Homo sapiens: one gene and its partners. The protein of the gene in region 3 interacts with the protein of the main gene of each other region in a biochemical or structural test. Each region holds a gene or a part of one and is shown on either strand. Other genes may lie near its edges.

Region 1 (3,500 bases), on a different chromosome or scaffold from region 3:
TTTTACACAGTTGCAATCCTAAACTATACATACAAATATTCCAAGTAAGGAGTTCCAAAAACCATTTGATTATAGACCAGCAAAACACACAAGACCCTATGGGGAACTCTTCCTGAGGTAAAAAAGGCTGGGAACACTTGGCTTAAGCAACAGTATTTATATACAAACTTTAGTTTCACTACTAAAAATGTTTGAAAGAAAAAAAGTCTACATACATGTTCAGAAGTAATAGCTTATAATCTTTTTTAATGCTATGGCAAGTTAGGCATTATGCAAATTACTAAAGGTTATATGCTATTAATCCATACCTGTAGCCTTTGGTTTATTATGACTGGATGAACCTTTGTCCCCAACACCTCTTGACATAAAGGCAAGTTTGGGAGGCCTCCTTTCCTGCGTCACACTCTCTGAAACAGTAAGCATGTTTTTTAAAGATAAAGGCAAATTCTTATAGAAGAGAAACAAGGAATGACAGTAACAAAATAAAAAAACCCTCTTTCCACAAAAAGGCAGAATTTTTAGTTTTACAAATGCCTTTTAAAGGCCATCAAAAGTATTGAAAAAGATAATACTATGGGGGAAAAAACCAATGCTGTATTTCAAAATGTAATTTCTATAAGAAAATACCCTCTCAAAATACAATTCAGCTAAATGCTTTAACCTCTTGAAAATTTAATCACTTGTAGTCAATTTTATTTGATCTCTTAAAACACTACAAAGAAAATCTTACTCGGTTTTTTACAGCATTTCCCAAATCAGCAGGCTTAGAACACCCCTGTGTATTATGAAGTGTTTCGAACTCAAATATTTCTTGAAGATGCTGAGATAAACAAAGATAAACAATTTCTTTACTGCACGGAACCAGAGCCTTTAATATGCTAATGTGCATTGTGAACTGCTCAGGGAGAAACAAAATAAACTTATTGATAAAAATTTTTGTGCCACTTTGCTTAGCATCTCAGATTAATATTATTTCATGAACACAGTTTGAAAAAAGCCTGGTTAGGAATATGTATCATGGTTAGGAAAGAAAGTTCTGGTTAAGAACATATATCTGTTTTTAAAAACATATATGTTAAGAATAACACAGATGTGTATACAAACACTTATACATATAAAAGAGGAAAACATAGAGAATTATGCATAGATTAAAAATACAGAAAGCCAGAGACACACAACAATAATATATTTGAAGAAAACACTCACAATTATTTCTGAAATATAGGTGTAATAAGTGTGGCAAACTTGTTTTGAATACAAAGACCACTCTAGACCTTAAAGCCCAGCAATGATCATAGAATACTCCTAAATACTGATCAAGGGAATGTAGAAGAGGCAGTGTGAAAAGTTCTTCCTTTGAAAAATTCAACAATACATCCGTGGAGTCCAACACGACACTTAGGAGTCATACCTGATAAAGCTGTGTGTCAGCAAAAACGATATCACCCACAGTGGATTTGAGGACAGAAAGAAAGAAATAGGAAAATTTTTACATTTTAAACACAAGGAAAAGACTTTTCTTAAAAAAAGAGGAAATTTACTAAATGAATTATATGTAAATACTTGGTAACTTTTTTCCATGGTTGAAAGAGGAGGGGGATGTGTTATTAAACTATATCTTAAACATCTCATAATATGATCCAATAGAATATGAAAATATTTTAATTCAAAAATTATACCAATTAACCACGATTTCGATCAAGTGATATAATAAGAGAAAAGCTATGTACTAATACTGTGGTCCCCACTTATCCACACTTTTACCTTCCACGGTATCAGTTACCCACAGTCAACCACTGTCCAAAAATATTAAATAAAAAATTGCAGAAACAGACAATTCGTAAGTTTTAAGTTGCATGCTGTTTTGAGTATTATAACGAAATCTTGCACCATCCTAATCCATAACCCCTGACGTAACCCATCCCCGTCCAGCATCTCCACACTGTGTCTACTCCCTGCCTTGTTAGTCACTTAGTAGCCACCTCAGTCATCAGATCAACTATTGCAGTATCACAGTGCTTACATTCAAGTCACCCTTATTTTACTTAATAATAGTCCTGAAGTACACGAGTAGTGATGTTGCCATATTGTTATTATTGTCTCTTCTCTGATTATTGTTTTCAATATCTTATTGTGCCTAATATATAAATTAAACTTTATCAGAGGCATGAATGTAGAGGAAAAACACAGTATACGTAGGGTTCAGTACTATCCATAGTTTCAGGTATCCACTGGGGGTCTTGGAAGTATCCCTTGATGAAAGAGGAGACCACTGTTCTTTTATGATGTTGTCATTCAGATATCTTTAAATAGCACCCATGACAGATACTTCAGAAGGAAAATCTTAGTCACTGAGAAGAGTTCCTAAATTATAGCATATAAATTTCCTAAAGAAAAACAACTCCCACTATTAACTGTAATTAACTGCATATAACATTTTTAAAGTATGTTCACATGTATACCACGATATAGATCCATTATATAGTTAGTAACCATTATAACAAATGAAGCAAGTGCTCTTCCCTTTGTTAGGCTTTGAAGGTAGCCTGGCAGGACTGGAGAGCCAACTGGATGGCCGGTGGTGACAGTTCTGCAGGTGACACTAGGGAGGAGCTCCAAAGATTAGGAATGTGAGCAGGGGGGCACTGGAGTTGGAAACTGTGGCTACCTTCTGTCAAAGGCTGTCTGAGAGGGGGTCAAATATCAGCTCTGAAGAAGAAGACATTCCATCAGAATTCTATACAGACAAAGGGGCACAAACCACCTCTAATTGCCCTCCAGCAATTACACACCAAATATTTCTTATTACTTTGTCACAACTGTGTTCATGGCCCAAAACTACTTGGGTCATGAAGCAAAGCTTTCAAAGTTAAATGAATTATAAGTGATTACCAACTCAGAAAAAGATAAATATGGGATGGAAAGCAAGGTAAGATAAATTCAGCTGGCAATTTTGTGTGATTAAAACAAACCTGATTAAAGATATTAAAAGATATAGAAGATAATTCCACCAAACAGCATGAGTAAAAATGTACAGAGCAGCCCTATTCATTCTAATCAAAAGCTGGAAACAAGCTATTCTACAGAAGAATAGAGAAACAAATTATGGTCTATTCATACAATGGAATACTACATAGCAATAAAAAAGGAACAAACTACTGATAAACAGGGCAACATGGACATTGTGTTCAGCAAAAGAAACCAAACCAAAAGTATCCATTATGTATACACAGCAAGATTGCATTTAAATGATAAAATTCACAGCTTATCCATCACTTGTTGATTTAACCAGAAAAAGAAAAATCCCTTGGAGAATCTTGAGCAGGAAATCATAACAATAAACTAGTGAACAAGTTATTGTTCAAATCAAATGAAATGTCTATGAATTTGAATGACCCAGTAAATTAAGAGAAATTGTTTAATTAATGTACCGCTTAACATCAGCAGCCACAAGAGCATAATTCAGACTCAAATGAGAATTTAACATCCACAGAAATCTT
Region 2 (3,500 bases), on a different chromosome or scaffold from region 3:
CATTTTAAGATGAGGAAACAGAAGCAAAGAGAGTTTAAGTAACTTGTTTAAGGTCATCCCACTGGAAGGCAGCAGTGTGTGATAGTGGAAAGAACTTGTTTACAAAGAGCAGAAAACTTGGATGTTGGCAGGGCATGGTGGCTCACGCCTGTAATCCCAGCACTTTGGGAGGCTGAGGCGGGAGGATCACCTGAGGTCAGTAGTTTGAGACCAGCCTGGCCAACATGGTGAAACCCCATCTCTACTAAAAGTACAAAAAATTGGCCGGGCATGGTGGTGGGCACCTGTAATCCCAGCTACTCGGGAGGCTGAGGCAGGAGGATTGCTTGAACCCGGGAGGCAGAGGTTGCAGTGAGCCGAAATCGCACCACTGCACTCCAGCCTGGGCAACAGAGTGAGACTCTGTCTCAAGAAAAAAAAAGAAAAAAAGAAAACCTGGATGTGAAATCTGTCACTTACTATCATGTGGCTCAAAAATGTCAGTTAACTCCTCTGAGCCTCAGTTAATTTGCTTGGATTTTTATAAGGAAATAAAATGGTACAAAAGCAAAACATTTTGAAAATCTTAGGTGATATATTCAAGAAAAAATGTAAACATGTGTCACTAAAAAGTACTAACAATGGGCCAGGCACAGTAGCTCATGCCTGTAATCCCAGGACTTTGGGAGCTGAGGCAGGGGGAGCACTTGAGCCCAGGAGTTCAGGACCAGCCTGAGCAACATAGCAAGACCAAGTCTCTACAAAAAATTTAAAAATTAGCCGGGCGTGGTGGCACACATCTGTATCCCTACTACTCAGGAGGCTGAGGCAGGAGGATTGCTTGAGACTGGGAGGTTAAGGCTACAGTGAGCTATGATTACACCCCTGCACTCCAGCCTGGGTGACAGAGTAAGACTCTGTCTCAAATTAAAAAAAAAAAAGTACTAACAATTGCTTCAGAAAAGTTGGTCTCTTTAATTTAGTATTACTCACAGAATGGAAAGAAACTTACCTCTGTAACCAATAGTTACTTCTGGAGAGTAAAATTGGAATGAGGAAGGAAATTTGACATTTAACTTTATAACACTAAAGTATTTAACTTTATTCCTGGTATTTATTACTTTCACAATTAAAAAATTAAAACACAAACAACAATCACAGATTTACCGTCTTAGAAACAAAGTCATGCAGGCGCATCCCTCCATTACTCTGTGGCGTGCCCACACTGTCTGTCTCAGTTCTTGGCTCCAGCTGCCTGCTGTTCAGGGTGGAGTCACTGTTCCAAGGTTGTAAAGTACCTAGAAAACAAGCAACTTTTAAGCTTTGTGTCTTAAGTATTTTGCTCCTTCTAAATTTTAGCTCCAATTTTAACTGGGAGATAAACAGTAATCTGTTATCATAGCCAAAAGTGAGAACTAATGGCTATGTAAAAAAACAGTTTCAAGAAAAACTAAAGTTATGCCAGTGGGCTAGCAATTCAAAGGTAAAGCATGACACAAGCAGTTCTCTGGTCCTCGGTATGCAGCAGTAAGAAACTACCCAATACATCCAATCCCCGCCTCCAGAGGGTTCTAAGAAACCAACTCTCCAAAATTTTGCTAGTTGTTTTACACAGGCCAGTTTAGTCACAAATTCAATGGACCTGTTTTCCTTCGGCTCCTGGTCCAATATGGCACAGTCTCAATAGTGGACACAGCTTCGATGGGCCCGCCATCATTGGGAACAGTCACTGTAGTTTTTGCAACTATGGATTCATTCCCCTGCAACAAAAGTAGTAATGAGGAAAGACAAACAAAGAATCTAACTTACCCTCCACTATAGGGTATTTTGGAGCAGGTAAAAAATTCCTTAGTCTTAGTCAAGACTTAAGACCCCAGTCTGATACTTTTTTTTTGAGACAGAGTTTTTCACTCTACCGCCCAGGCTGGAGAACAGTGGCGTGATCTCGGCTCACTGCAACCTCCGCCTCCCAGGTTCAAGGCATTCTCCTGCCTCAGCCTTCTGAGTAGCTGGGATTACAAGCATGCGCCACCACACCTGACTGATTTTTTTTTTTTTGAGACGGAGTCTCGCTGTGTCGCCCACGCTGGAGTACAGTGGCCCAATATCGGCTGACTGCAAGCTCCACCTCCCGGGTTCACGCCATTCTCCTGCCTCAGCCTCCCGAGTAGCTGGGACTACAGGCGTCTGCCACCATGCCCAGCTAATTTTTTGTATTTTTAGTAGAGATGGGGTTTCACTGTGTTAGCCAGGATGGTCTCAATCTCCTGACCTCGTGATCCACCCGCCTCAGCCTCCCAAAGTGCTAGGATTACAGGCGTGAGCCACCGCGCCTGGCCGACTGATTTTTGTATTTTTAGTAGAGACGGGATTTCGCCATGTTGACCAGGCTGGTCTCGAACTCCTGACCTCAGGTGATCATCCACCTGCCTAGGCCTCCCAAAGTGCAGGGATTACAGGCGTGAGCCACCACGCCTGACCTGAAACATTCTTATGTTGAAATCTGATGTTTGGCTGGGTGCAGTGGCTCATGCCTGCAATCCCAGCATTTTGGGAGGCCAAGGTGGGAAGATCACTTGAGCCCCGCAGTTCGAGTCATCCTGGGCAGCAAGGAGAGACTCCCCCTCTACTTTAAAAAGTAAAAATAAAGAAATCTCGTACCTAAGAAGATAAACATAGGTCATGGGGGTATATATTCAAGCAACTAAGACTCACTCTGACAGTTGTTTACTACATCAGAGTAATTCCATTCATAGGGATAAGGATCCTACTGCATAGAAAAACTTTAACCAAAGGCCAGGCACGGAGGCTCACGCCTGTAATCCCAGCACTTTGGGAGGCTGAGGCAGGTAGATCACCTGGTCAGGAGTTCGAGACCAGCCTGACCAATATGATGAAACCCTGTCTCTACTAAAAATACAAAAATTAGCCAGACGTGGTGGCATGCGCCTGTAATCCCAGCTACGTGGGAGGCTGAGACAAGAGAATCACTTGAACCTGGAAGGTGGAGGTTACAGTGAGCCAAGATGGTGCCATTGCACTCCAGCCTGGGCTACAAGAACAAAACTCTGTCTCAAAAAACAAACAAAAACTTTAACTAAACATCATGTCTCTCAAAACAATGCTGCAATGCTGACTCAGAGAAGTTTTAATGCTTGGGGCCAGTAATCTCTGTTACCTTGGCCTGACTATTCTTACCTGGTCTACTGCAGAGCCAATGGAACGAGTTTTCTTTACAGGTCCAGGGGGACCATCAACAAACTGTCGGCTAGTAGAGCGCTAGAAAGGAGACAAAGACCCGTAACTTTAATGCCAAGCAGATCTGAAGCACAGAAGATAAAATTATTCCATCAAACAACTTGGATACAGGTCCTGGGGATTAGGGCTACAGTAAATAACAAACAATGTGTTCTCTCTCTCTCTCTCTTTGCCTATTTCCACATGAAGAATAAGCTGTTTCAAAAGAATATGTTGTACAAAAATGCTCTCAGTGCCCTAGAAAAAATGAGCAAGCTATGGAG
Region 3 (3,500 bases):
CTGAGAGGGCAGGCTTGTGAAAAAGGAATCAGACAGGTTTAGATGGCCCCAAGCCCCAGTGAGGACAAGGCATAGAAGCTGTAGGGTGTGGGTCTCCTGGAGAATCTGCCCAGCATGCAAGGACCCCTGTGCCCAGCCTTCTGCATGAGCAACACTCTCCAGCCCAGCTCACCAGGCCGGGAGCAGGAGCCTGACGAGAACTGGGCCAGAGGCCTTCCCTGAGAAATTGAAATTGGCTTTCTTTTGCTCAGTCTGTCTTTCCACAGCCTGTACCACAAGCCTGAGAGGTACAAGTAGTTATCTTCTGCCCATCATTTCAGCTGAGCAGCAGAGAAAGCCAGTCTGTGCCCAGTGCTCTGGGTCCCAGCTCCCAGGTATTTGCAGGCTTAGCCATATCCCTGGCCAAAGTTTCCATGAGATAGCCTCTTCTCCCCTTGAGGCACTGGCTGCCACACTTGCTGTTACTTGCAGCCAAGAATCAAAGTGACTCGCTCCATCATTTCAAACACTCATGTTCAGCCAATACAGCAACACTCAAGGGGCAATGGCTTAAGAGAACCAGGAGCGGAACTCTCCCGGGCTACCCTGGCAGCAGCCTGAAAAAGTAGGCAACCTTCCTGATAAAGCATCTCTGAGTACTGCCTCTGAAGGGAAGAGACAGCCAGCTCCCCTGTCACCTTTCTCCCTAGCTTCTGAAAAGTCAGGCTCCAAGAGCAAGAAGGGCCAGGAACTCACCGCCCGTCATGCTAGGAAAACCACTGTCTTTGAAAAGCCCAAGTTTCTCACCACAGTTCCAAATGGTACCTGAGAACGCTTCCATTTGCCCATGTCTGGAACTGTGTGGATCTCCTTTTTTGGAATGATGAAGTTCTGAGTGGCTGGAGGGGCCTCCTCTGAAGAATCTTGACAAAAAAAAATGAAAAAACAAACAGATAAATAGAATCCTCCCCTACAACACACACACTCCCTTTCACCTTTTTTTTTTTTCTTGAGACGGAGTTTTGCTCTTGTTGCCCAGGCTGGAGTCCAGTGACACGATCTTGGCTCAATGCAACCTCCACCTCCAGGGTTCAAGCGATTCTCCTGCCTCAGTCTCCTGAGTAGCTGAGATTACAGGCACGTGCCACCACACCCAGCTAATTTTTTTTTTTTTCTTTGAGACAGAGTCTCGCTCTGTCGCCCAGGCTGGAGTGCAGTGGCGCGATCTCAGCTCACTGCAACCTCTGCCTCCCGGGTTCAAGCGATTCTCCTGCCTCAGTGTTCTGAGTAGCTGGGATTACAGACGTATGTCACCATGCCTAGCTAATTTTTGCATTTTTAGTAGAGACGGGGTTTCACCATGTTGGCCAGGCTGATCGCAAACTCCTGACCTCAGGTGATCCACCCGCCTTGGCCTCCAAAGTGTTGGGATTACAGGTATGAGCCAAAGCGCCCGGCCTCTCTCTCACTTTTAAACCAGGACTCCAACACCTGAGCCTTAGAATAAACCAGACACATACTTCCAGGACAGAGTAAGGGCTTGTTAAGCCAAACCCACAGCCTCCTGCCCTCCCTCACTCTGGGGAGGAAAGAGAAGGGCAATACTGACAATCCCTTCAATAACCATGCCCTCCCTTCCCTCTCCCCCCCAGAGCAGAACCGTTAGAAAAATAAAACCAAGTTGATGTTTCAGACATACACAGGCAATTCACAGAAGAAAAAAAAACAGGTCAGGTGCGGTGGCTCACGCCTGTAATCCCAGCACTTTGGGAGGCCAAGGCAGGCAGATCACAAGGTAAGGAGATCGAGACCATCCTGGCTAACATGGTGAAATCCCATCTCTACTAAAAAAGTACAAAAAAATTAGCCAGGCGTGGTGGCGGGCGCCTGCGGTCCCAGCTACTTGGGAGGCTGAGGCAGAAGAATGGCGTGAACCTGGGAGGCGGAGCTTGTGGTGAGCCGAGATTGCACCACTGCACTCCAACCCAGGCAACAGAGCGAGACTTCGTCTCAAAAAAAAAAAAAAAACCTAATTGCAGTAAACATTTGGAATAAATTGCCAACCTCCTGAATAAGCACGGACACGTAAATTATATGTGATTTCTCTTTCTGGATAAGGTTGGCAAATTAAAAACATCTGGCTAGGTGTGGTGGCTCATACCTAATCCCAGCAATTTGGGAGGCCAAGGCAGGCAGATCACTTGAGGCCAGGGGTTCAAGACCAGGCTGGCCAACTTGGCAAAACGCCATCTTTACAAAAAAAATTTAAAAATTAGCTGGGTGTGGTTGCATACCTGTAGTCCCAGCTACTTGGGAGGCTGAAGCAGGAGGATCACCTGAGTCCAGGAGGTGGGGGTTGCAGTGAGCTGAGATCATACCACTGCACTCCAGCCTGGACAACAGAACGAGACTCTGTCTCAATAAAAACAAAACAAGATTCCAGGAAGAGGAAACAAGAATTCTCCCGCTCTGTGGGTGGGAAGGACCTCCTAAGGGGACAATCTTTTGGAATAAAAAACTGCATATACACAATGAGTCAACAGGTCTACTTACAGGAATCTATCTTTCAGATGTGCTCACGGAAACACAAAGGTGTTTAATGCATCAAAAAAAAAAAAAAAAGCTGGGCATAGTGGCTCACACCTGTAATCTCAGCACTTTGGGAGCCCCAGGTGGGAGGATCACTTGAGTCCAGGAGTTTGACACCAACCTGGGCAACACAGCGAGACCCCATCTCTACTTTAAAAAAAAAAAAATTTTAGGCGGGGCGCGGTGGCTCATGCCTACAATCCCAGCACTTTGGGAGGCCAAAGTGGGTGGATCACACCTGAGGTCAGGAGTTGGAGATGCGCCTGACCAACATAGTGAAACCCCATTTCTACTAAAAATATAAAATTATTCAGGTGTGGTGGCGCATGCCTATAATCCCAGCTACTTGGGAGGCTGAGGAAGGAGAATTGCTTGAACCAGGAGGCAGAGGTTGCAGTGAGCCAAGATCGTGCCATCGCACTCCAGCCTAGGCAACAAGAGTGAAACTCTGACTCAAATAAAAAAATTTTTTATTAATTAGAAACAACCCAAATAGGCTGGGCGTGGTGGCTCACACCTGTAATCCCAGCACTTTGGGAGGCCAAGACAGGCAGATCACGAGATCAGGAGTTCGAAACCAGCCTGGCCAACAAGGTGAAACCCCATCTCTACTAAAAATACAAAAATTAGCCAAGTGTGGTGGCGCACACCTGTAATCCTAGCTACTCAGGAGGCTGAGGCAGGAGAATTGCCTGAACCCAGGAGGCAGAGGTTACAGTGAGCTGAGATCGTGCCATTGCGCTCCAGCTCTGGTTGACAGAGCAAGACTCCATCTCGGGGGAAAAAAAAAAAAAAGAAACAACTCAAATATCAGTTGATAAGACAATGGGTAAATAATGATATGCCCAGGTCCGGCATGGTGACTCACACCTGTAATCCCAGAACTTTGGGAGGCTGAGGTAGGTGGATCATTTGAGGTCAGGAGTTCCAGA
Region 4 (3,500 bases), on a different chromosome or scaffold from region 3:
ATGTGCACAACTGAACATTTTTTTTTTTTAAAACTCACCTTAGAAAGCAATGTTCCTTTTTTTCAATATTGCTGTGCCTTCCCAGGCCAAGCACAGTGGAGCATGCCTCTAATCCCAGAACTTTGGGAGGTCAAGGCGGGTGGATTACTTGAGCTCAGGAGTTTGAGGCCAGCCTGGGCAACATGGCGAAACCTCATCTCTACCAAAAAATACAAAAATTAGCCGGTTGTGGTGGTGCATGCCTGTAGTCCCAGCTACTTGGGAGGCTGAGATGGGAGGATTGCTTGAGCCCAGGAGGTTGAGGCTGCAACTGCACTCCAGCCTGGGTGACAAAGTGAGACCCTGTTTCAAATTAAAAAAAAAAGAAGAAACAATATTGCTGTGCCTTCCTAACTCATCTTCCAGAACATGAAAATAAAGGTCTATATGAGAAAATGCCTCGCTACTTTATGTCAATGGATAAATATGGTATTGCTCTGCTGACCCTTTTTCCTCAGATTTGGCAATGAAGGACTTTTTTGGTCTTTTAGGAAGCAAAAAAATCAAACTCTCTCTCTTTTTTCTTTGAGACGGAGTTTCACTCTTGTCACCCAGAATCGTTCGAGTGAGTCTCGTGCCTCAGCCTCCTGTGTAGCTGGGATTACAGGCGCCTGCCACCAGGCCCGGCTAATTTTTTTTTGTATTTTTATTAGAGATGGGGTTTCACCATGTTGGCCAAGCTGGTCTTGAACTCCTGACCTCAGGTGATCTGCTTAGCCTCCCAAAGTGCTGGGATTACAGGTGTGAGCCATCGCACCTGGCCTCTCCTTTCAAATAATAAAAAACTAGAGGGTCAGACTCAGAAGCAAAGCATGACCCTGTCTCTACAAAAATAAATAGCCGGGTTTGTGGTCCCAGCTACTCGGGAGGCCGAGGCAGGAGAATTGCTTGAACTCAGGAGGCGGATGCTGCAGTGAGCTGAGACGGTGCCACTGCACTCCAGCCTGGGTGACAGAATGAGACTCTGCCTCAAAAATAAAATAAAATAGGCCGGGCGCGGTGACTCATGGCTGTAATGTCAGCACTTTGGGAGGCTGAGGCGGGCGGATCACGAGGTCAGGAGTTCGAGACCAGCCTGGCCAACGTGGTGAAACCCCATCTCTACTAAAAATACAAAAAATTAGCCAGGCGTGGTAGCGCGCCTGTAAACCCAGCTATTCGGGAGGCTGAGGCAGGAGAATTGCTTGAACCCAGGAGGTGGAGGTTGCAGTGAGCCGAGATCGCACCATTGCACTCCAGCCTGGGCGACAGAGCAAGGCTCCATCTTGAGGAAAATAATAATAAATAAATAAATAAATAAATAATTAGCTGGGCATGGTGGTGCGTGCCTGTCATCCCAGCTACCCGGGATTCTCCTGTCTCAGCCTGAACCTGGCAGGTGGAGGCTGCAGTGAGCTGAAATCATGCCACTGCACTCTAGCCTGGGCGACAGAGTTAGACTGCCTCAAAAATAAAATAAAATAAAATAAAATAATAAGGCCGGGTGTGGTGGCTCATGCCTGTAATCCCAGCACTTTGGGAAGCTGAGGCGGGTGGATCACCTGAGGTCAGGAGTTTGAGACCAGCCTGACTAACATGGTGAAACCCTGTCTCTAATAAAAATACAAAAATTAGCCGGGTGTGGTGGCACATGCCTGTAATCCCAGCTACTTGGGAGGCTGAGGCAGGAGAATCACTTGAACCCAGGAGGCGTAGGTTGCAGTGTGCCAAGATTGCACCACTGCACTCCAGCCTGGGCAACAAGAGCGAAACTCTGTCTCAAAATAATAATAATAATAAAAAGGAGTCTGGGGATTGGAGGGATTTTGGAGTGCTCTACACCAGGAACCCCCCACCAAATCTTTAATAAGGGACACAGTGTGGAATGCTTCCAACACTTTAAAAAATTTTATTTATTTAATTTATACCGACAGAGTCTCACTATGTTGCTCAGGCTGGTCTTGAACTCCTGGCCTCAAGTAATTTTCCTGTCTCAGCCTTCCTAATAGCTGGGATTACAGGAGTGAGCCACCGCACCCAGCTCCTTCAAACACTTTAAAAGGAAGCTCAGGTAAATGTGAGAAGAGGGTCCATCGTTTCTCCCTCACTGCATTAATGTCCAAGCTCTTTTAACCCATCCTTAATAATTTCTTCCCTCCATGTGACTAAGGCCTCAGGACATGGGCTGTGCTCTGGCTTTGGTGCCCAGCCTACATCCCCTTCTTCCCAGCACTGCCTGTTTCATGTCCAAAGACTTGGGAGCTGCTCCAAGGTAAGCTTCCTGGGCACAGACCTTGTTTGCTTAACCAAACAGGGTGCCATTAACACCTGCAGCCCTACCTGCTCACCTCGGATTCACCTTATCCAGGTACGGGTCTTTGGCACAACTGCCATCCAAGCCTGTATATAGGCTTCAGAGTCAAACATGCAACACGGAGCTGGGAATGTGGAGATTGATGAGGGAAAGTTTCTTTCTGACCCACTCAAAGGTTCTGCTGGCTAATGAGCTGTTTATGGTGTCGCTGGATATTTTTAAGACTCCACAGACTCAAATATTCATACATGACACTCCCTTCGGCAATTAAATTATCTTAAGTACTCTGGACAGCTAACCTCAGAGCAGAGCCTCAGTGTGCAAATGGTTAATGACCATGGAAAGCAAACTGGAGGCCAGGTGAGGTGACTCATGCCTACAATCCCAGCAGTTTGGGAGGCTGAGGTGGGAGGACTGCTTGAGCCCAGGAGTTTGAGGCCAGCCTGGGTAATACATAGAGACCCTGCCTCTACAAAAAAATAAAAAAATTAGCAGGGCATGGTGGCACGTGCCTATAGTCCCAGCTACTTGCAAGGCTGAGGCAGGAGGATCACTTGAGCCCAGGAGTTTGAGACTGCAGTGAGCTATGTTTGTGCCACTGTACTCCAGCCTGGGTGACACCATGAGACCCTGTCTCAGGAAAAAAACAAAAAAAGGGCCGGGTGCAGTGGCTCACGCCTGTAATCCCAGTACTTTGGGAGGCCAATGCAGGCGGATCACGAGGTCAGGAGATCGAGACCATCCTGGCTAACACGGTGAAACCCTGTCTCTACTAAAAACACAAAAAATCAGCCGGGCTTGATCGCGGGCGCCTGTAGTCCCAGCTACTTGGGAGGCTGAGGCAAGAGAATGGCGTGAACCCGGGAGGCGGAGCTTGCAGTGAGCCAAGATCTCACCATTGCACTCCAGCTTGGGCGACAAAGCGAAACTCCATCTCAAAAAAAAAAAAAAAAAAAAAGGAAAGCAAACTGGAGTCATAGGAATGGAGATAGTGCAACCCAACTGCTGCTTCTTTCCCTCCAGGGACAATCACTTGAGGGCCATTCCCAGCAGGAGTGACTGGGGGGTACTTACTCCAATGGTTTTTCCTGAGAAGCTGACAGTCCCTATAAGTAAGCAGGTGCAGACAGCCATGCAGACACTCTATCAAAAGCCTGGCTCTCCACAC

What was found.
Region 1: the proteins of PTPA (region 3) and CYLD form a complex in vitro, tested with the Homo sapiens proteins (one study listed by BioGRID).
Region 2: the proteins of PTPA (region 3) and RACGAP1 form a complex in vitro, tested with the Homo sapiens proteins (one study listed by BioGRID).
Region 4: of the proteins of PTPA (region 3) and EIF4EBP1, one has a biochemical effect on the other in vitro, tested with the Homo sapiens proteins (one study listed by BioGRID).

What each region holds. Positions count from the first base shown.
Region 1 is NC_000016.10:50,773,086-50,776,585, reverse strand, and holds part of CYLD (ubiquitin carboxyl-terminal hydrolase CYLD), read right to left. Parts: intron 1,421-3,500; coding exon 1,412-1,420; intron 408-1,411; coding exon 309-407; intron 1-308. UniProt on the Homo sapiens protein: Deubiquitinase that specifically cleaves 'Lys-63'- and linear 'Met-1'-linked polyubiquitin chains and is involved in NF-kappa-B activation and TNF-alpha-induced necroptosis.
Region 2 is NC_000012.12:49,997,995-50,001,494, forward strand, and holds part of RACGAP1 (rac GTPase-activating protein 1), read right to left. Parts: intron 3,259-3,500; coding exon 3,178-3,258; intron 1,740-3,177; coding exon 1,622-1,739; intron 1,278-1,621; coding exon 1,147-1,277; intron 1-1,146.
Region 3 is NC_000009.12:129,117,915-129,121,414, reverse strand, and holds part of PTPA (serine/threonine-protein phosphatase 2A activator), read right to left. Parts: intron 903-3,500; coding exon 805-902; intron 1-804. UniProt on the Homo sapiens protein: PPIases accelerate the folding of proteins. It catalyzes the cis-trans isomerization of proline imidic peptide bonds in oligopeptides. Acts as a regulatory subunit for serine/threonine-protein phosphatase 2A (PP2A).
Region 4 is NC_000008.11:38,033,534-38,037,033, reverse strand, and holds part of EIF4EBP1 (eukaryotic translation initiation factor 4E-binding protein 1), read right to left. Parts: intron 1-3,500. UniProt on the Homo sapiens protein: Repressor of translation initiation that regulates EIF4E activity by preventing its assembly into the eIF4F complex: hypophosphorylated form competes with EIF4G1/EIF4G3 and strongly binds to EIF4E, leading to repress translation.